Linked DNA regions of Homo sapiens. The protein of the gene in region 1 purifies or fractionates together with the protein of each later gene. This does not show direct contact. Each region holds a gene or a part of one and is shown in the gene's direction. Other genes may lie near its edges.

What was found. The genes of interacting proteins can lie anywhere in the genome.
Region 2: the proteins of RNASEH1 (region 1) and RBM26 purify together in Homo sapiens (affinity purification with mass spectrometry; one large-scale study listed by BioGRID and IntAct). This does not show direct contact.
Region 3: the proteins of RNASEH1 (region 1) and CDK13 purify together in Homo sapiens (affinity purification with mass spectrometry; one large-scale study listed by BioGRID and IntAct). This does not show direct contact.
Region 4: the proteins of RNASEH1 (region 1) and RBM27 purify together in Homo sapiens (affinity purification with mass spectrometry; one large-scale study listed by BioGRID and IntAct). This does not show direct contact.

The regions. Positions count from the first base shown.
Region 1 is NC_000002.12:3,540,589-3,545,613, reverse strand, and holds the end of RNASEH1 (ribonuclease H1 isoform 1 precursor), read left to right. Parts: 3' UTR 1-4,184; downstream 4,185-5,025. UniProt on the Homo sapiens protein: Endonuclease that specifically degrades the RNA of RNA-DNA hybrids.
Region 2 is NC_000013.11:79,398,928-79,403,952, reverse strand, and holds part of RBM26 (RNA-binding protein 26), read left to right. Parts: exon of another isoform or gene 1-924; intron 925-5,025. UniProt on the Homo sapiens protein: May be involved in the turnover of nuclear polyadenylated (pA+) RNA.
Region 3 is NC_000007.14:40,085,559-40,090,583, forward strand, and holds part of CDK13 (cyclin-dependent kinase 13), read left to right. Parts: intron 1-2,567; coding exon 2,568-2,773; intron 2,774-5,025. UniProt on the Homo sapiens protein: Cyclin-dependent kinase which displays CTD kinase activity and is required for RNA splicing.
Region 4 is NC_000005.10:146,258,408-146,263,432, forward strand, and holds part of RBM27 (RNA-binding protein 27), read left to right. Parts: intron 1-41; coding exon 42-186; intron 187-2,337; coding exon 2,338-2,491; intron 2,492-3,102; coding exon 3,103-3,399; intron 3,400-5,025. Other genes in the region: RBM27-POU4F3, read left to right, coding at 42-186, 2,338-2,491, 3,103-3,399. UniProt on the Homo sapiens protein: May be involved in the turnover of nuclear polyadenylated (pA+) RNA.

The DNA.
Region 1 (5,025 bases):
TTAAGTATATAATAAATTGAACATCTTTGAGATTGGAGAATTATGTGAGATTTCCACATTATGTTTACTGGGTTCAATACTGTCCTTGCTTGTTTTATTGCAGGCAAGCAAGGCAAATGGCCTAAAATGCTGTGGCTTATATTTTGATAAGAAATCAAAAAACCATTGGTTAAAAGATGCAACTCAGAAGTCTGGAAGTATTCTGAAAGCATCCATTTACCGTCCAGTTGACAGGTTTGAGTCTCCTGCTTGTATAGGTGACTTGTGCCCATGGGTACATTAAAGGAACATGCTGCCCAGGGCCTGGGCGGACAGCTCAGTGGGCAGGATGTGTGCTGGGTCTCAGCCCCATGTGCCTGCTTGCTGGGCAGTTAGTATAGGGCAAAGCCTGCCTGCGGCGACCCTGGCTGCTAGGCCATTCTCTAGGAACAGCTGCGACTCATAAAGACCAAGAAGCATAAATAAACTTTCAAAAATTTATTTGGCTCTTTCGTTAAAAACTGTGCAAATTAAAAAAAAAAAAAAAAAAGTAAGACACCGGCTGGGCACAGTGGCTCACTTCTGTAATCCTAGCACTTTGGGAGGCCAAGGCGGGCAGATCACTTGAGGTCAGGAGTTTGAGACCAGCTTGGCCAACATGACGAAACCCTGTCTCTACTAAAATTACAAAAATTATCCAGGTGTGGTGGCACGGGCTTGTAGTCCCAGCTACTTGGGAGGCTGAGGCACAAGAATCACTTGAACCCAGGCGGCAGAGGTTGCAGTGAGCCAAGATTGCACCACTGCACTCCATCCTGGGCAACAGAGTGAGACTCTGTCTCAAAAAAAAAAAAAAGTAGTAAAAGTTTGACATGATTATTTATTTAGTTTTAAACCTTTTTATTATAAAAACATACAGGAAGTGACACAAAACAAATGTATAGCTTATTGAATGATTATGATTGTAAGGTGAATAACCTTTGTGTCCACCACCTGGTGAAGAAATAGTACTTTGCCAGATACCCCAGGAGGCTCTCCCAAGTGCCCCTCCAGCCACAGCCCTCTTCTTCTCCCCCTCCTTGCCCCAACAAGTAATCCTGACTTTTACAGAAATGACTTTCTTGGTTTTTTGATGGCAGTTTAGTCTTGTCTGCTTTTTTTTGTTTATTTTTTTATCTACTTCAGTGTCCATTTGCAGTCCCGTCGGCCTCACTGTTTTCCCTGCCGTTTATCTGTTGAAGAGCCTGGGCTGTTTGTCCCATGGCTTCCCACAGTGTAGATTTTGCTGACCACGTGGTCATGGTGTAGTTCAGCATGGTCCTCTATGTTTCCTGCACATTGGCAGCTGGGTCCAGAGGCTTGATGAGCCTCAAATTTGATCCCTTTGGCAGGAGAACAGGCGGTTAGGAGCTTTCCTCAGGAAAGTACCATGTTGACGGCAGCTGATGCTCAGTGCCAAGATCCATTAATTATTTGGGGTTGCAAAATGGTGGTATTCTCATTCTGTCGTTTTGCTTGCCTTTATTAGCTGGAATGGTTTTCTAAGAAAGTGTTTTCTTTTTTATACTTATCTGGTTACCCAGTGGTACAGTTCATATAGGAAGGGCAGGATAAATGCTTGATTCTTTGCTCTTGTACACTAAGTTTTTAAGATAATGCATTAGTTGTCTGTCAAGGAAGGTGAGTGGTGAAGGGTTTTTACATATATACAAGAATTCATGGGCTGGGCATGGTGTCTTATGCCTGTAATCCCAGCACTTTGGGAGGCTGAGGCTGGAGGATCACATGAACCCAGGAGTTTGAGACTAGTCTGGGCAACATAGTGACACCCTGTCTCTACAGAAAATTAAAATAAAATCAGGTGGGTGTGGTAGTGCCTGCCTGTTGTCCCAGCTATTCTGGAGGCTGAGATGGGAGGATCGCTTGGGCCCAGGAGGTCGAGGATGCGTGAGCTGTGACCATGCCACCACATTCCAGCCTGGGCGACAGCAAGTCCTTGTCTTAAAAAAAAAAAAGAATTTGTGGAGTTAAGCATACTTGGTGGGTTTCAATCCGTTGTGATTTTTATCTTTATTTAGCTCAGACTAGCTTATTCGGTCAGTGAGAGGGAGCCTCTTCAGCTTGGCTCTTGCTTTCTTTTGATAAGTGTGCACATGTGTGCATACATGTGTGCACAGACCACACGCACAGTCATTGATAGCTCCCTGCAGCCTGGCATGTCAAGATGCTCTAGGCCCAATTTATAGAGCTTCTGCTCCAAACCTGTCTTAAAAGAAAAACTTTAGACAAGTTAGCAGTTTAATTGAGCAGAAAATAGTTTCTTCAGCTGGGTAGCACTCAGGACCAAAAGTGGTTCAGAACGTTCTCCTGTGCGTTGTGTGCAGGCTGTATTTATTTATAGCCACAGGAAGGGAAAGACACATGTACATGGCCAGACTGACTGCAGGTCAGCCTCCACCTCACATAGGCATGTTTTGGGAGCCTTCAGCATGTGATTGGTGAGACTCTGCTGCTTGTTACAGAAGTGTACTCTCAAGTCAGGTCCCAGTTTGCTTATACATTAAGTGAGGTTATAAGTCACTATGTACAGAGGCAGTTTTAGGCCAAACTTAATTCCGTTTAACACTTGGAATCCATTATTTTTCCCAGAGTCTCTGGTAGAGATGGTATTTCAGATCCAGTTTAGGATGCTCATTGCTATTGCGTTGGTCATTATTTCTAGATTTTTGGACGGAGCTTTAAAAAAATACAAACATTGCACACACATATTTAAAGGAAGAATATTTTCTGAGCCTATATTGATATTCCCAATACAAATTCAGGGTCCTGGGGCCTTTACATAGCCTCCTCTATATGATGTCTGTGTCTCCTGCACTCGGAATCCTGCTTCTCAAGACACAGGACAATGGCATGGAATATCCATCCCTTAATCACTCACTTGTTTTATTCCTCTTTAGCATTTAGCATTTAAAAAAAATACTAATACCATAGCATTAATTGTGATGATGAAAACAGCACTGTGTCTACGTTGTCAGAAAAATTGCTCCTTTTTACCACCATTGACTCATTTCTGTGTGTTCAGGTCTCATAACCAGTCTATAGTCAGTGTCATCTTGGGGACAGTATTCCTTGAGTTTCTGATGTTGAATTCAGTTTTGCTGGATACGAAATTCTTGGCCCAGATTTTCTTTGAGTATCTTGTTTTATTCTGTTTTCTTCCAGCATAAAGTGATGCATGAAAAGCCTGATGAATCTTGTTTTCTTCCCCTGACAGTCATATGCTGTTTTTCCTTAGATGCCCAAAGGATTTTTTCCTTTTTCTGTCAAGTCGGCCGTTTTATTCGAATGTGTCATGTGTTGGTATTGGTTGTCCTGGTCCATATTTGCAAGCGTATGGTGTGCTCTTTCTATGTGTACTTCATATCTGTTATTTTAAGAAGATTTGCTTGAACTGGAGTTTAGTGTTACATTTTTCTTGCTTTGGCTTTTTTCTGTGGGGATCCCTGTTATCTGTATGTTGAAATCTAAATTGGCTGTTCTCAGTGTTTGCCACTGTCTCTTGAATCTCTTTTATCTCTTTCTTTGTTTCTTTTTGAGTTTTAAAAGTTGTTATTGTACCACTTTTGTTTTGTTTTGTTATTTAAAATAGGAACAGTGTCTCACTGTGTTGCCCAGGCTGGTCTTAAACTCCTGGCCTCAAGCGATCCTCCTTCCTTGGCCTCCCAAAGTGCTGGGATTACAGGTGTGAGCCACCAAAGCCGGCCCCACCTTGCTTTTTAAAACAGCTCTGTTGAGGTGTAACTGACAGGTAATGAACTGCACATACGTGAAGTGACCGATGCATTTGCCTGTGAAGCTGTCGCCAGAACATGTCCATCACCACCAACAGCAGTTTCACACCCCGGTCTAAACCGTCCCTCGTGTCCTCCATGTTCAGGCAACCACTGGTCTGCTCCCTCTCACTAAAGGTTAATTTATATATTCTAGAATTTTATCTGAGTGGAATCGCAGAGCAAGTACTGTGGGGGGAGGTGCTTCTACTCAGCATAATTATTTTGGCATTCACCCATTTTGTGTACATCAATAATCCACATTTTGTATTGCATGGATATACCACAGTTTATTTATTTACCTGTTGACCGATATTTCGATTATTTCCAATTTCTAAATAAAAATAAAGCAAATAAAGCTGCCGTGAACATTTATATCCTCGTCTTTGTCTTCTGTTTCTCTTGGGTAAATGCCTTGGAATGGAATGCTTGGTCATATGGCAGGTGTGTGCTCTTTTTTTCTTTTTTTTTTTTTGGAGATGGAGCCTCACTCTGTCACCCAGGCTGGAGTGCAGTGGCGTGATCTTGGCTCACTGTAAGCTCTGCCTCCCGGGTTCACACCATTCTCCTGCCTCAGCCTCCCGAGTAGCTGGGACTACAGGTGCCCGCCACTACACCCGGCTAATTTTTTTGTATTTTTAGTAGAGGTGGGGTTTCACTGTGTTAGTCAGGATGGTCTCAATCTCCTGACCTCGTGATCCGCCTGCCTCGGCCTCCCAAAGTGCTGGGATTACAGTGTGAGCCCAGCCAGCTGGTGTGTGCTTTTTAAGAAACTGTGAAACTTTTCCAAGTGTGAACTTTACACTTTACATTCCCTCCAGTCAGGCAGGAGAGTTCCAGTTCACTCCACATCCTTGTCAACACTTGTCACCTCATTCTGTTACAAATGTCCATAAGTTTTTTGGTTTTGCTGTTTAGTAGTTCTGTTTTTAGGTGGGGATTTGAGAAGATTCAAAAAGCATGCTCCTGCTGCTGCCTCTGTCTTCTGAGAATCTGTGATTTAAAAAAAAAAAAATTGAACCAGAATTGGAAATAGATGAAAAGTTGTGCCTTTAGAAACTTTACGGTCTGTGGGATTTTCACAACACAGATGATGTTGGCTGGGCGCAGTGGCTCACGCCTGTAGTCCCAGCACTTTGGGAAGCTGAAGCAAGTGGATCACGAGGTCAGGCGTTCAAGACCAGGCTGACCAAGATGGTAAAACCCCATCTCTACT
Region 2 (5,025 bases), on another chromosome or scaffold:
TGTCATTAAAAAACAAGTGTATGGCAAAAGAGAGGAGTTTATGAAATGCTGCAGAATGCATGAAAAAATGGAGGCAAATAGGTAGCCCTTAGATTTAGCAAAGTGGAAGTCATTGGTAACCTTAGCAAAATAGTTTCACTGGAGTAGAGTTGTGCAGATGGAAGTCCTATTTCGGTGTATTGGAGAGTGGGCATCATAGTATAGCGGTGAGGAGAACTCTGGAGCAGAATGTCTGGCTTTGAATTCTGCCTCTGCCACTTACCAGCTGTATGATATTGGGTAAGTTACTTAACTCAGGGCTTCCATTTCCTCAACTGTAAAATTGGGAAAATAATGGGTGTATATTAAGGAAATCTTAGACTACTGTCTGGTGTGTAATTAGCATTCAGTAGTTATTAGGTGAATACAAAACTTATAAATGTTTTGGATTGAAATAGCTTTCCTTTAAGCGTTCAGTTTCATATTAGATTTACTGCCGTATCCCTCCATCTTACCTAAATGAGAAGACTGTAGCTACTTAGAGTGTATGCTTGTAATTTTTCTTTAGTCTTAATGAAACATATTCCATGTATCATAAAGCCTACTCTCGATGGCTGTAGCACTGCAGTCATTATGTTGTAATAAATAAGGCTCTGCTAGTAGAGCCTAGACACTGGGAATTGTAATTGGTCCTTTTCTAATGTGTGTAGCTGTGGTAAAATTGAGCCCTTATTCAAGTTCTTGTCCTTTTAATTGCATTTCAGGTGGATTCTTTTGTATGATGACTTATAAAAGCTGATCCCAATTATGGATCAGTGGTTTCTAACGTTGGTTTTGTGAAATGTTATGATCTGTTATCTAAAAGGAATTTTTTTTTTTTTTTGCTTTAACATTGTAATTACCAAACGACCTCTGTTTGAGAGAGGAACATACAGAGGACCAAGGGTAAGCTGTAACTTGAAACTTACATAAAACTTTTTAGTTACCTGTGGTGGTTAAATACTTCATGGTTTTGGACTTACTCCACATTTTGAATGTGTTAATTCAGCAAACATTTATTTTAAGAGTACTTAACCTACTCTGTGCTAAGCAGTGTGCAAGATATAGTAGGTAACAAGACATGAAATGACTCACTTCATTTTATTTACCATTTAGCAGGAAAGATAGGTGTTGAAGTCTGGGAACATCAGGAAACACTTCCCTGGTGTAATGTTTATCTCAGCTTGGAAGGATGAAGAATACTTTGCTGGGGCAAAAGGATGGGATTGGAGACCTGTGAAAGCGTTATAGGTTTGGTGAACAGATTGTATGGAGGTCCTAAAAATGGACAAAAAAGATATGTTGGAGGAATTGAAAGAAATAGAAAAAAGCAAAGGAGAAGAATGGCAGTGGAAAGCTCCAGAGATAGGAGCCAGATCACACAGGACTTTGTTGAGTCATGTTTAAGACTTTGGATGTTATTGAAGGATAGTGGGAAGCCAGTGAAGGGTTTTAGGGCAAGAGGGTTTTCAGATGGATGTTTAAAAAAAAAAAAAAAAGCCTGGCTGTGTTTTCAGCGTGAAATAGAAGTCTGCATATCTGTATTTACTGTTTCATAACTTCTGTACATGTATCAGGGTTCTGAGTTTCATAAATTATTGAAAATAATTTTCAATGTCTTTTTCATAAATTGAGAATTTTGAACTTTATTAAAATTGTCATCTTGAAATGCTTAAGATTGATGTTTTGTTATCTCAAAGATTTGCTTAGTCATACTTGCCAATAATATGAAACTAAATGTTAGTCTTTTTTCTAACATTTCGTTTTGATGATGAGAAGTCCTGAAAAAAAAATTAAGCTCCTTTGTTGTAGTAAACTTTTAAACAAACAAAAAAAACAGAAAACACTTTCTACTGTATTTAAAACTTTTAGGTGGACTTACACATCAAAGTCATGTTTTTTTTTTTTTCCTGAAGAGACACCTAAACATCTAATGAAACTTTAATTTTTTAGAAAATAAAATTGAGGGGCAGGTGGATGTAATGACGTACTGAGGTTTTGTGAGTTGAGTAGTAAAGAACAAAATGCCTAGTGTTGTGCTTCTGCCACTGTGTAGTGCTGTGGAGGAAGTGTGTGGTGGAAGGAAGATCTCTGTGTCCAGATCAGTATTCAAATCTCACTTCTGCCATTTATTAGCTGTCTAGGCAAAGAAACCTCCTCTTTCCTTATTGGTATAATAGGAAGAATTACAGTATTTCCATCTATAGTTGAAAGGGTTGAATGGGACACATGTTTGTGAGCCTTGCCCTTCCCCTCCTTTCTTAGATATTGGTTGATTAAACACAGATAGGCTACATTACTACTGTTGCTACTGTTAGAATTATCACCAACACTCCTGCTGTGACTACCACCTAAACTGTATGCATTGTTGTTAAACATTTTGTATTATTGTACTTACAAGTTTTATGAGGTAAGCATTGTTATCTCTCCATTTTGCAGGTGATGATACTGAGGCACTGAAGCATGAAGTTATTTGCCCACAGTGATTTAAACTAAGGCTTTTTGACTCTAGAGCTGTGTGCATATTCTTAATTTACTACTACAGAATGCAGCATCCTAGTGTTTTCTGTTACTGCATATACTTTTTTACTATGACATTTTGATAGTATTGGCTACTATTGTAAAAGAACAAAGTTCTAAAGCATCGTGATTATCAGTGCTTTAGAGTTTAAGAAATAAACATCTTTGTGGTTTTTGTAGTATTTTTCCCCTTCACCTGTACTTGTTACTACACCTTTCTCACCACATTAAAATTTATTTTTGTTCGTGTCTGATAGGAAGAGTTATTCTTTTGGGTTGGCTAAATGATCTTTTTACTCCTGAACTTTTGAGTATTTTTGATTCCTTTGACCTTTCCTTTTCAGTTGGCTTCTTTTGGCATAGTAAGTCCATTTCCCATTCTTTAGGAAAAACTCAGCAATAATAGCAAAAAACAAAACAAAAGATAAAACGCTTCTAGTCACTTTCTTGCTAGCTTTCTGTTCCTGTCGCTGGTAAATCTTGAAGTAGTAGTCAGACTTTTAATTTTTTGTTAATTTGCCCTCAGCCATTTACTTCTTAATGTCTTGGAATAGAATTTCTTCGTTGTAATATAATTACAACCAAAATTACTTACCTCAGTGTTACCAATCAATTTATATTTATTGCCTGAAGTTTTATATTTTTTGCCCTATGCGTGTATAACATCAGTGTTGATGCCACCTTTTTAACTTACTTGCCTTGAATCCCTAATGTGTTGGTTCCTTTTCTTAAGTCAGTCTTACCCTCTTTTGTTCCTTTTCTTCAGATTCTAATTGTATTTTTCAGTGTTGTTACATTGACATTTTTTTCTTCATCCATTTTTTACTTCTGACATTTCATTAATTACTGCTAAGATTTGAATGTTTGTCTTCTCCAGAATTCATGTTGAAATTTAATTTCGTTAAGTATTAAGAGGTGATTAGGTCACGAGGGCTCTGCCTTTGTTGATTGGATTAATGCCTTTATAAAAGGTTAGGTTTTGCCTCTGCCCCTCTGACTTCTGCTATGGGAGACCTCTGACTTCTGCCATGGGAGGAACTCCGGAGGATGCAGTGTTCAAGGTCTATCTTGGAATCAGAATTGCCAAACCTGCCAGTACCTTGATATGAGACTTCCCAGCCTCCAGAACTGTGAGCCAATAAATTTCTTTATAAATTACCCATCTTGTGGTATTCTGTTATAGCAGCACAAACGGACTAAGACCTTTCCCATGAATGGTTTTCTTTGTAATACATGCCAGTGGTTCTTAAAAACTTTTTTTGGAGTGTATATTGTAGATCCTTTAAAGTCTGATTAAAGACTGTCTCCCTAGGATTTACAAATACATACACATTTGCATTGAATTTCAGAGCTTTTCACTCTGAGCTTGTTAATGGATTCCAAACTAGAACCTCTACTCTGCATTTATTTTCACATAAGTATGTTTAGACTTAACCACTCTTCACAGTCTTAAGCTTTTATCTCTAATTGCTGGCTGTATATCTGCTTGGATCGCTCATCTAAACTTCAAACTAATTTCTGAAAAGAAGTGTTTTCTGGATTCACTTATTTTAATTTCATTTCTCCAAATTATGCTGGCTTGAAATTTTTTGGCTTCTCCTTCCTCCCATTCACTTAGTCATGAGGTTCTCTCTTAATAATCCTTACTGACATTGCTTAGTAGGGGGCTCACACTCCGTATCTAAATGATTGCAGTTTGCTTCCTAACAAATCTGTTTTTATCTCTAGGCCTTTCTCCCTTCCAGTTCTTCTGACATGGATGCCCAGCCTTGTTTGTATCCCATTGCTTGATCAAAACCTTCAGCATTCCCAGATAATAAATTGCATACTTTTTAGCTTGCCTTTAAGAAAGCTAATGATTTGCTTTAAATTATCTTTTCCATTTATATCTTTCTACTTTTTATATGAGTCTTAATTTCAGCAAAGCTGAACTTTCGTGATTCACTGTCATTTTTTTTTATTGTTTCTTTTTTCTGAAACTTTACTGTTTCTTTTTTCTGAAGATTAGTAGTGGGCACCATTTATTGAGTGCTTACTATTAATATATGTTAATTGTTATACATTCATTGTGTGCAAGATAGGTGTTAGGAAGATGAATTAGCATACTTTATTCATAGCTAGTAAGTGATGGAGACAGGATCCAAAAGAAGACATTTTGATTCCAGAGCCTTGTTGTATTATGGTGTACTGTCTTTATATCCTTTCTTTGTGTTGAAGTCAAAGATCAAGTGTGATTCCAGTTCTTCCAGAAAGCTGCCTATGATCTATCCAGCTGGGTGAAGTGACTCCTCCCACCATGACTCCTCTCTCTCAGCACTGGTTTCAGTTGTCATGACACTCATCACTTGTACATTAAATTATTTAGTCGTGTTATTTTAGCTTTATTATTAGAGTCTCAGGCCCTTGAAAGCAGACTCCAGCTCTTAAGATTTAACTATGTTCCTGTTCATTATATACATTATCTAGCACAATGCTTTGTGTGTAGTA
Region 3 (5,025 bases), on another chromosome or scaffold:
AATTTAAGGTATCCCAACAGAGACTGAGACCCACATCATATCATACAAACACTTAGAAAGGAAATTCTTTGGCGGGTTTATGATGCCTGAAAGCTTCCCAATATCGATATTTCAAATTGTCCCTTTGTTTGTTACTCCAGGAGGTTTTTACACGCTGAGGCAATGCATCATAGTAAGATGGCTGAGAGGTATGCCTTTGTTTTGTTTTTGGACCTCAGGTGCATAGACTTGGTTTAATCATAATCCTTGTGTCACTCATCATTGGTCCATGCATGGCTCTCTTTTATTTATTTTAGTTACTTTAGTTATTTTTAATAATGTTAATAAGCAGCCATGAACCTACCAAACAAAAGCTAGAATGCTGAAAATAACATACTGTAATCATATTACCCCTACCCCCACCAACCTATCCCCTTGCCTTCCTCCACCTGAGGTAACCATCATCCCTGTTTTCTTTTGTATATACTTTTTGTTGCCATCTATATGTACTCATAAAAGGTTATATTTTAAAAATTTTAGTTGTTAATTTTATAAAAGCGCGTCATGCTGTTTGTAATATTTTGGGAATGACTTTTTAAACTAATATTGCTAAGATTCAACCATATTATTGCATCTGCCTTTATTTTATAACATGACTAATTGTGAAAGAGGAGATGTAAAAGAACTTGCTTAAACAAGCAGGCCATCCTCAAAGCTCAGTCTTAGGAAAGCAGACATATGGATATGGAAATTCCTTTAAAAAAATTCCAGGTGTACCCTCTTGGAGAGTCTTCGGGTACCTCCTAGAGGTAAACAGATCCAGGTTGAGGATTATAGGTATATATTACCAGGTGGGGTTGCTTAAGGGAATTTGTAGATATTCTGGGCAAGTTTATTCACCTTTCTAAGCCTCAAGTTTCTCATCTTTAAAATAGGTACAACAGTAACGTTCCATTAAATACTTAATTAGGGTAAGAAGAAAGCATTTATAAACCAAATATTTGTATCTTTAAGCAAAAGTTATTCTCTAGTGTTATCAGTTGTATGAAGTTACTTTAAGATAGAATTGACTAGGAATTGTGGGCAGTTTTGATAGTTGTTATTCGCAACTCTGTTGATAAATGATGAGCCGCTCTATGCCAGGATTACCTATTTTGAAAACTCGTCTGTAGCATCAGTTTAATTCTAGAGCATTTGGATAGACAAGCAAGTTAGTAAAAAGTAAGCTTTTACTGTTAAGTTCTTCACAAATGTTATGTTCTAGCCTTACTCTTTTTTTTTTTTTTTTTTTTTGAGATAGGGTCTGGCTCTGTCACCCAGGCCAGAGTGCAGTGGCATGATCTTGGCTCTCTGCAGCCTCTGCCTCCTGGGCTGAAGCCATCCTCCCACCTCAGCTTCCCGAGTAGCTGGGACTACAGACATGTGCCACCATGACTGGCTAATTTTTTTATAGAGACAGGGTTTCAGCATGTTGCCCATGCTGGTGAACTCCTGAGCTCAAGTGATCCACCCACCTTAGCCTCCCAAAGTGCCAGGATTACAGGCATGAGCTGCTGCGCCTGGCCCTTTACTACTTTTTTATCCCATATCTGGTTTCTGCAAATGGCATGTTTTTCTTTTTTGTGTGACAGGGCCTGGTTCTGTCGCCTAGGCTGGAGTGCAGTTACATGATCTCAGCTCACTGCAACCACCACCACCTGGGCTCAAGCTATTCTCCCACTTCAGCCTCCCAAGTAGCTGGGACTGCAGTGCACAACATCATGCCCAACTAATTTTTGTATTTTTGGCAAAGACAGGGTTTTGCCATGTTGCCCAGGCTGGTCTTGAACTCCTGGGCTCAAGCAATCCTCCCGTCTTGGCCTCCCTAAGCACTGGGATTATAGGCGTGAGCCACTGTGCCTGGCTGGAAATGGCATATTTTTCTGCCTTCTTTTTCATGTCTTATTCAGTGTATGATGTACTATCATAAGAACTGACTTTGAAAGGTTGCACCAACAGCAATAGTGGTGTTTTTTTTTTTTTTTTTTTTGAGACGGAGTCTCGCTGTGTCACCCAGGCTGGAGTGCAGTGGCGCAATCTCGGCTCACCGCAACCTCCACCTCCCGGGTTCATGCCATTCTCCTGCCTCAGCCTCCTGAGTAGCTGGGATTACAGGTGCCCGCCACCACGCCTGGCTAATTTTTGTATTTTTAGTAGAAACGGGGTTTTGCCATGTTGGCCAGGCTGATCTCAAACTCCTGACCTCAGATGATCCACCTATGTCGGCCTCCCAAAGTGCTGGGATTACAGGCATGCCCAGCATAGTAGCCTATTTTTATGAATATATATTCTTCATTCATAATTTTGATAAATGATTATTTATTGATTATTCAAAAGCCAAAGAAAAATAGATTATCTGTAAAGGCAAAGCAAGCCCTGAAGGAAGTGGGACAATAAGGATGATTTTTATTGGAAGAGTTTTACAGAGCCATTCTATGAAGTCTTCAAGAACTATTTGGGGTGGGGGCATAACTTTGTTGCTATATAGTAACTGTAGCATTTTTTGTTAAGAAATGCCATTTACAATTTAATTCCTTTTTTTTTTTCAGTCTCCCTTTATGGCAAGATTGTCATGAGTTATGGAGTAAAAAGCGAAGAAGACAGAAGCAGATGGGCATGACTGATGATGTTTCCACAATTAAAGCCCCCAGGAAGGACTTGTCTCTGGGCTTGGATGACAGCAGAACCAACACACCCCAGGGTGTGCTGCCATCTTCACAGCTGAAATCTCAGGGCAGCTCAAATGTGGCACCTGGTCAGTAATGCTTCCATGGGTTGGTTTTCTTCACATTGTTTTGCAGTTAATTCTGATCATATTGCTCTAATGTTAAAGCATCTTGTGGCTAACAATGAAAATTAACATTTATTCACTGAACTAGACATTTCTTTGTGCCAGTACAGAAGTTTCATTGCTATTGGCACCACAATTTTAAGTAATCTTAAGGTAACTTATAAAGAAGCATCAAATTACCTGACTGGCAAGTCCTCGGATTTCTGTATTTCCTTTTTACTCTTAGTGCAGGAGTGAGTAGGTCTTTTACTGACACTACTCTCAGTGAGGCTCAGCATTCAATGTCTATAGATGCTTAAGCAGTAGGAAGAAAGGTATAAGAAAACAGCCAAAAATCATAATGAGAGCTCTTTCATACCATTTATAGCGTCCTCATGTCACTCCTAATGTTATAATTTCTCTGGTTATATTAAAGAATCTTAAAGATTGGGGCCAGGCATGCTGGCTCACGCCTGTAATCCTAGCACTTTGGGAGACTGAGGCGGATGGATCACCTGAGATCAGGAGTTCGAGACTAGCCTGGCCAACATCGCGAAACCCCGTCTCTACTAAAAATACAAAAATTAGCCGGGCGTGGTGGCACACACCTGTAATCCCAGCTACTCGGATGCTGAGGAAGAAGAATCGCTTGAACTGGGGAGGTGGAGGTTGCAGTGAGCCGAGATTGCGCCACTGCACTCCAGCCTGTGCGACAGGAGCGAGACTCCATCTCAAAATATGTGTGTGTGTGTGTGTGAGTGAATCTGATATTTGTGCCCAAAATAACTTAAAATATGAGAAGGGAAGGCCAGGCATGGTGGCTCACATCTGTAATCCCAGCTCTTTGGGAGGCCACGATGGGCAGACCACTTGAGCCCATGAGTTCGAGACCAGCCCAGACAACTTCCTGAAACTCTGTCTCTACTAAAAATACAAAAAAAAAATTAGCTGGGCATGGTGGCACACACCTGTAATCCCAGCTACTCAGGAGGCTCAGGCACGATAATTGCTTGAACCCAGGAGGCAGATGTTGCAGTGAGCCAAGATTGAACCACTGCACTCCAGCCTGGGTGACAGAGCGAGACTGTCTCAAAAAAAAAAAAAAAAAGGATATCTTATATCTAGTTATTTTAGGGAAACTTAAATTTCTTCCTTTGACTCAGTCTGTCATAGAGTAAGCTTTTTGATGCAAAGTCTGCCTCTTCAATGTTGTCAAGAGTGTTAAAATCATTTAACAACTTTTTAAAAGGACCTCCACTCCCTCATTTTGCCTAAAACATCCAGAAACACCCATCTTTAATTTAACACCATCTTTAGTTGAAGTTTTATGAAAACAGAGACTGATATAAAATAGAGAGAGAGAGAGAGAGAGAGAGAGTGTGTGTGTGTGTGTGTGTGTGTGTGTGTGTAGGTGGTGGCTTATTAAACATGAAAAAATAGACTAGCACTTCTTAAGAGATGAGTATATGTTGATTGATGAGTTAGTTGATTAAAACAGATGTGTGGATCAGACTGAACTTTTGGTGGTTGAAGATAAATATAGATTAACTGAGAAAGCTTTAGGAAGATAACCATTAATGCTTGCCAATGTAGTCTACAAGCTTCTACTTGACCTTGGTTCAACTGCATACTTAAAGTACTCATTCAATGAATACCAAAAGCAATTGTTATTTGTTGTTCAAAAGTATTCTTTCTTGAAATAGTGAGTTCCCCTTATACATTAAAATATTTGTCCTGCTAACAAAAGGATGTGAAATGGCAATAACAGAAATTTTGGATGGTGATCTGTTTTCCCAGGCAACAGTTGTCATATTTGGCAAGACTCTCAGGTCTTTATTTCTGGTCCTCTTCATGGAACTGATGTCTTAAACTCTACCAAACGTAGTAGTTTACTCATTTTAGCTGGTAAAAAATGATTTGCCCTTTCTGGGCTCATTTTGTTGTTAATTTGCTCTAACTTACTTTACAACCCTGTTTTAATGGTGGATAATTTTATTTTTTATTTTCCTTTTTTAACTTTAATTTTTTTTTGAGACAGTCTCTGTCACCCAGGCTGGAGTACAGTGACACGATCTCAGCTCACTGCAATCTCCGCCTCCCAGGTTCAAGTGATTCTCCTGCCTCAGACTCCAGAGTAACTGGGATTACAGGCATGTGCCATCACGCTCAGCTAATTTTTGTATTTTTAATAGAGATGAGGTTTTGCCATGTTGGCCAGGCTGGTCTCGAACTCCTGA
Region 4 (5,025 bases), on another chromosome or scaffold:
CTCCTGAAAAACTCAGTAATTTCAATTTTTTTTTCCAACAGCTGCTAACATTGTGATCCAGACTGAACCACCAGTTCCTGTTTCGATTAATAGCAACATAACCAGAGTAGTTCTTGAACCAGATAGTCGAAAAAGAGCTATGAGTGGTTTGGAAGGGCCACTCACAAAGAAACCTTGGCTGGGAAAGTAAGATAATTTGCTAATTAGTAGCATCTAATTGTTATTGTCGTTTGCATTGGTAAATTCATAAAAATAAGATTTGTCATTAATTAATGTTTTTCAAACTAGGTATCTTGAAGTTAGGGTTCCAGGAGACATCTTTAGAATGTTGTAAAAATTAAAAAGTTAACAATATTTATAATTTTTTTTTTTTTTTTAAAAGACGTAGTCATCCAGGCTGGAGTGCAATGGTATAATCTCAGCTCACCTCAACCTCTGCCTCCTGGGTTGAAGTGATTCTCTTGTCCCAGCCTCCTGAGTAGTTGAGATTACAGGTGCCAGCCACCATGCCCACCTGATTTTCTTGTATTTTTAGCGGAGATGGGGTTTCACCTTGTTAGTCAGGCTGGTCTCAAACTCCTGACCTCAGGTGATCCACCCACCTTGGCCTCCCAAGGTGCTGGGATTACAGGTGTGAGCTACCACATCCAGCCCAAAATAGGTATTTCTAATTCGTACCTACCTATTTCTACGCCTAACCCAATATTAGAAATTACTGAGACACTAGCAATGGATAGAAAAGAAGAAAAAAATGAAATCAACGGTGAAAAAAAAAAGCTTAGTACCTTTGCAGAAGTTGAAAATATGCCGTTAAAGATGATGTTCTAGCTGGGCACAGTGGCTCACGCCTATAATCCCAGCTCTTTGGGAGGCCAAGGCGGGTGGATCACTTGAGGTCAGGAGTTCGAGACCAGCCTGACCAAAATGGAGAAAGCCAAAATACAAAATTAGCCAGGTGTGGTGGCACGCGCCTGTAATCCCAGCAACTTGGGAGGCTGAGGCAGGAGAATCGCTGGAACCTGGGAGGCGGAGGTTGCAGTGAGTTGAGATTGCACCATTGCACTCCAGTCTGGGCAAAAAGAACAAAACTCTGTCTCAAAAAAAAAAAAAAAAAAAAAAAGGTGGTGTTCTAGCCTTCATTTAATGATGTTAGAGTCTTTGATAATTGTGGTAGATCTTTATGGTAGATCTATTTAGCATATGATTTTAAGTGTTAGTTGGGCCTTTTCTTTTTGTAATCTATTGCTGTTCACCTTTTCTATTCTCATGTAATAAGAATAATGTGGCCGGGCGCGGTGGCTCACGCCTGTAATCCCAGCACTTTGGGAGGCCAAGGCGGGTGGATCATGAGGTCAGGAGATCGAGACCATCCTGGCTAACAAGGTGAAACCCCGTGTCTACTAAAAATACAAAAAATTAGCCGGGCGCAGTGGCGGGCGCCTGTAGTCCCAGCTACTCGGGAGGCTGAGGCAGGAGAATGGCGTGAACCCGGGAAGCAGAGCTTGCAGTGAGCCGAGATTGCGCCACTGCAGTCCGCAGTCCGGCCTGGGCGACAGAGCGAGACTCCGTCTCAAAAAAAAAAAAAAAAAAAAAAAAAAAAGAATAATGTTGGCCGGGCGTAGTGGCTCACACCTGTAATGCCAGCACTTTGGGAGGCCGAGACGGGTAGATCACCGACGCCAGGAGTTCAAGACCAGCCTGGCCAACATGGTGAAACCTTGTCTGTACTAAGCATACAAAAATTAGTCGTGCGTGTTGGCATGCACCTGTAATCCCAGATACTCAGGAAGCTGAGGCAGGAGAATCACTTGAACTTGGGAGGTGGAGGTTGCAGTGGGCCGAGATTGTTCCACGGCACTCCAGCCTGGGCGAATGAGTGAGACTCCGTCTACAAAAAAAAAAAAGAAGAATGTGAAAATTGCTTAGTAATTTCCGAAGAATGTTAAGGGCTCACAAAAGGAACTTTAAACAAATTAATCAATCAGTTAATTTATTACATAGAGATGTGGTCTTACTATGTTCCCCAGACTGGTCTGGAACCCCTGGGCTCAAGCAATCCTCCTGCTTTGGCCTCTCAGAGTGCTGGCGTTACAGGCATGAGCTACTTCGCTCAGCCTGTAATCTGTTTCTGGATGCTTATGTATTTTCTGTGGTTTGAATTTTGAATATAATGTTTCATATGATTTTGAAGAAGTTTTCTGGGATTATAGGTGGAGCCACCATGCCCAGCCACAAAAGGCACTTAAAAAAATTATAAACCTAAATTCTTTGTGGTTATATCTCTTTGCTAGGCATGAAGTAGGAGAATTAACCAAGATGTATTAATCTTCCTTTTAGGCAAGGAAATAACAATCAAAATAAACCAGGGTTCTTACGAAAGAATCAGTATACAAACACCAAATTAGAAGTCAAGAAAATCCCTCAGGAATTGAACAACATTACCAAGCTCAATGAACACTTCAGCAAATTTGGAACTATTGTTAATATCCAGGTAAATGTGGCTATGTCAGTGACAGAATCCAGGCATTTTATGGGTCTTGGGAATATTTCTATCAGCTCACCTTGTTTAAATGAGTCAGTGGTTATTCTGATCATCTCTGCTAAGTGCTGTAAATGCCACCATATATCTATATACCCACTTTTATGATGGACTTGTTAAACCATGTTTGTTCTTGTGAATTCATTTGGTTCTTTTCTGCAATCTCTTCCTGAAAGAGAATGGGTAGCCTCACAGTTTTGGAGACTGAGAAGTCCAAGATCAAGGTGCTGGATGATTCATTTCCTAGGGAGTGCTGTCTTCCTCGCTTGCAGATGGTTGGCTTCTTGTGTTCTCACATGGCAGACAGAGAAAGAGAAAGAGGGGGTCAGGGCAGATCTCTTTCTCTTCTTTTAAGGCCACCGATACTATTCATTAGGATGCACCTTTGTGACCTCATTTAACCTTAATTACATCCTAAAAGCTCTATCTCTAAAACAGTAATGTTGGAGTTTAGGGCTTTAACATGTGTATTTTGGGGAAAACATTCATTACATAGCAGTGGGTCATAATTTATTTAACTATTTTCTGTTTTTGGGAATTTATATTGTTTTATTTTCTTCAAGGTTGCTTTTAAGGGTGACCCAGAAGCAGCCCTAATCCAATATCTTACCAATGAGGAGGCCAGGAAAGCCATTTCTAGCACAGAAGCAGTTCTAAACAACCGATTCATTCGAGTCTTGTGGCATAGGGAAAATAATGAGCAACCGACACTACAGTCCTCAGCACAGCTGCTCCTGCAACAACAGCAAACACTTAGTCACCTCTCACAGCAGCACCATCACCTGCCACAGCATCTACATCAGCAGCAGGTGCTAGTGGCCCAGTCTGCTCCTTCAACAGTGCACGGAGGTATCCAGAAGGTAATCTGGTTCACTGGGAATTAAAGGTCTTTTAGTTACACCCTCTAGATCAGTATTTTTCAATTCCTGGTCCTTGGGTCTTCTACAGAAGAGCTACTCTTAATTTGAACTGCAGACCAGTAGCATCTGATCTCCTGGGATCTTATAGAAATGCAGATTCTTGGGGGAAAAATTTCAGATTCTTGAGCCATACTCCATCCTACTGAATCAGAATCCCTATGGGTGGGGCCCAAGGATTTGTGTTTTAACAAGCTCTCCTGGTGATTCTTACATACCTTAAAGTTTGAGACCTGCTATTTTACATCAGAATCACTTACCTGGGTGCAAATTTCTGGGCTTCAGCTTCTCAAACCTCTGTAGAGTCAGTCTCTAGATACAGGGCCTATAAATATACATATTTAACAAGTACTCTTAAGTTATTGTTATGCACCCTAAAGTATAATAACCATCTACCACAGAGCAACTTTAACTGTAGAGCTATTTATTTTTTAGAATCAGTCTTTTTTGTGTCTACCCATTTGCCCTCCTTTTTCCCATGTAAAAAAGTTATATGTTCCTTCTAAAAATGGGAATAGAAGCTCCAAGAGAATTGGAATTTTGCCTGTTGTGTCCATTCTATCCCTAGTGCCTAAAACAATGTCTGGTACATATTGCTCAAAGCATATTTGATTGAATAGATGAAGGAAGGAAAAAACAAAACAACAAACTACCACACATCAGAGCCATTCAGAGATTGACCTAGATAATCTCATGCTTAGATTAAATACAGTCAGATTTTTAAAAAGTATTCCTTACAGTACATGGCATCAACTCCATTTATCATCCTGCTCATTTGCATCTAAATTCTCTTTCAGTTATGTTTGTATCCCACTTCATGTAAGGGTGCAAAGGTGAATGCTTCCCCTAGATGTTGGGTGAATAGTGTAGAAAAGAGTTCATACTATCACCTTCATGGTGATGATTAAACATGTTCTGTTAGTACAGCCCAAGATTGCATTATGTTTTTGAGGTGATCATTTCACAATTATTCATATTAAGCCACTGTCAGTTAAGACCCCCTAATTCTTTTCTTCTTCTTTTTTCCTTTTTTTTTTTTTTTGAGACAGTCCTGCTTTGTCGTCATTCAGGCTAGAGTGCAGTGGCTCAGTCTTGGTTCACTGCAACCTCTGCCTCCTGGTTCAGGCTACCTGCCTCAGCCTCCTGAGTAGCTGCGACTACAGGTGCATGCCACCACCCCTGCCCAATTTTTGTATTTTTAGTAGAGACGGGGTTTCACCATGTTGGCCAGGCTGGTCTTGAACTCCTGACCTCAGGTGATCCACCCACCTTGGCCTCCCAAAGTGCTGGGATTATATGTGTGAGCCACTGTGCCCAGCCAAGACCCTCTAATTCTTTCAGAGCATTGCATACTAGAGGAAACATTAAAAAATAATTAATGGTTTTTTTGTGTGTAGGTGCATGTATATTTTGTTGTGATATGTTTTAGACATCCCAAAAAGTATGAATAATCTATCATTTGTATATTCACCAGTTCCCCTTAAAAAATAAAACCTTACGGATAATTGAAGCACCTTCCCGTTCCCATTTTCTTATCTTCTTCCCTAGAGTAATCATCTTAAATTTGTA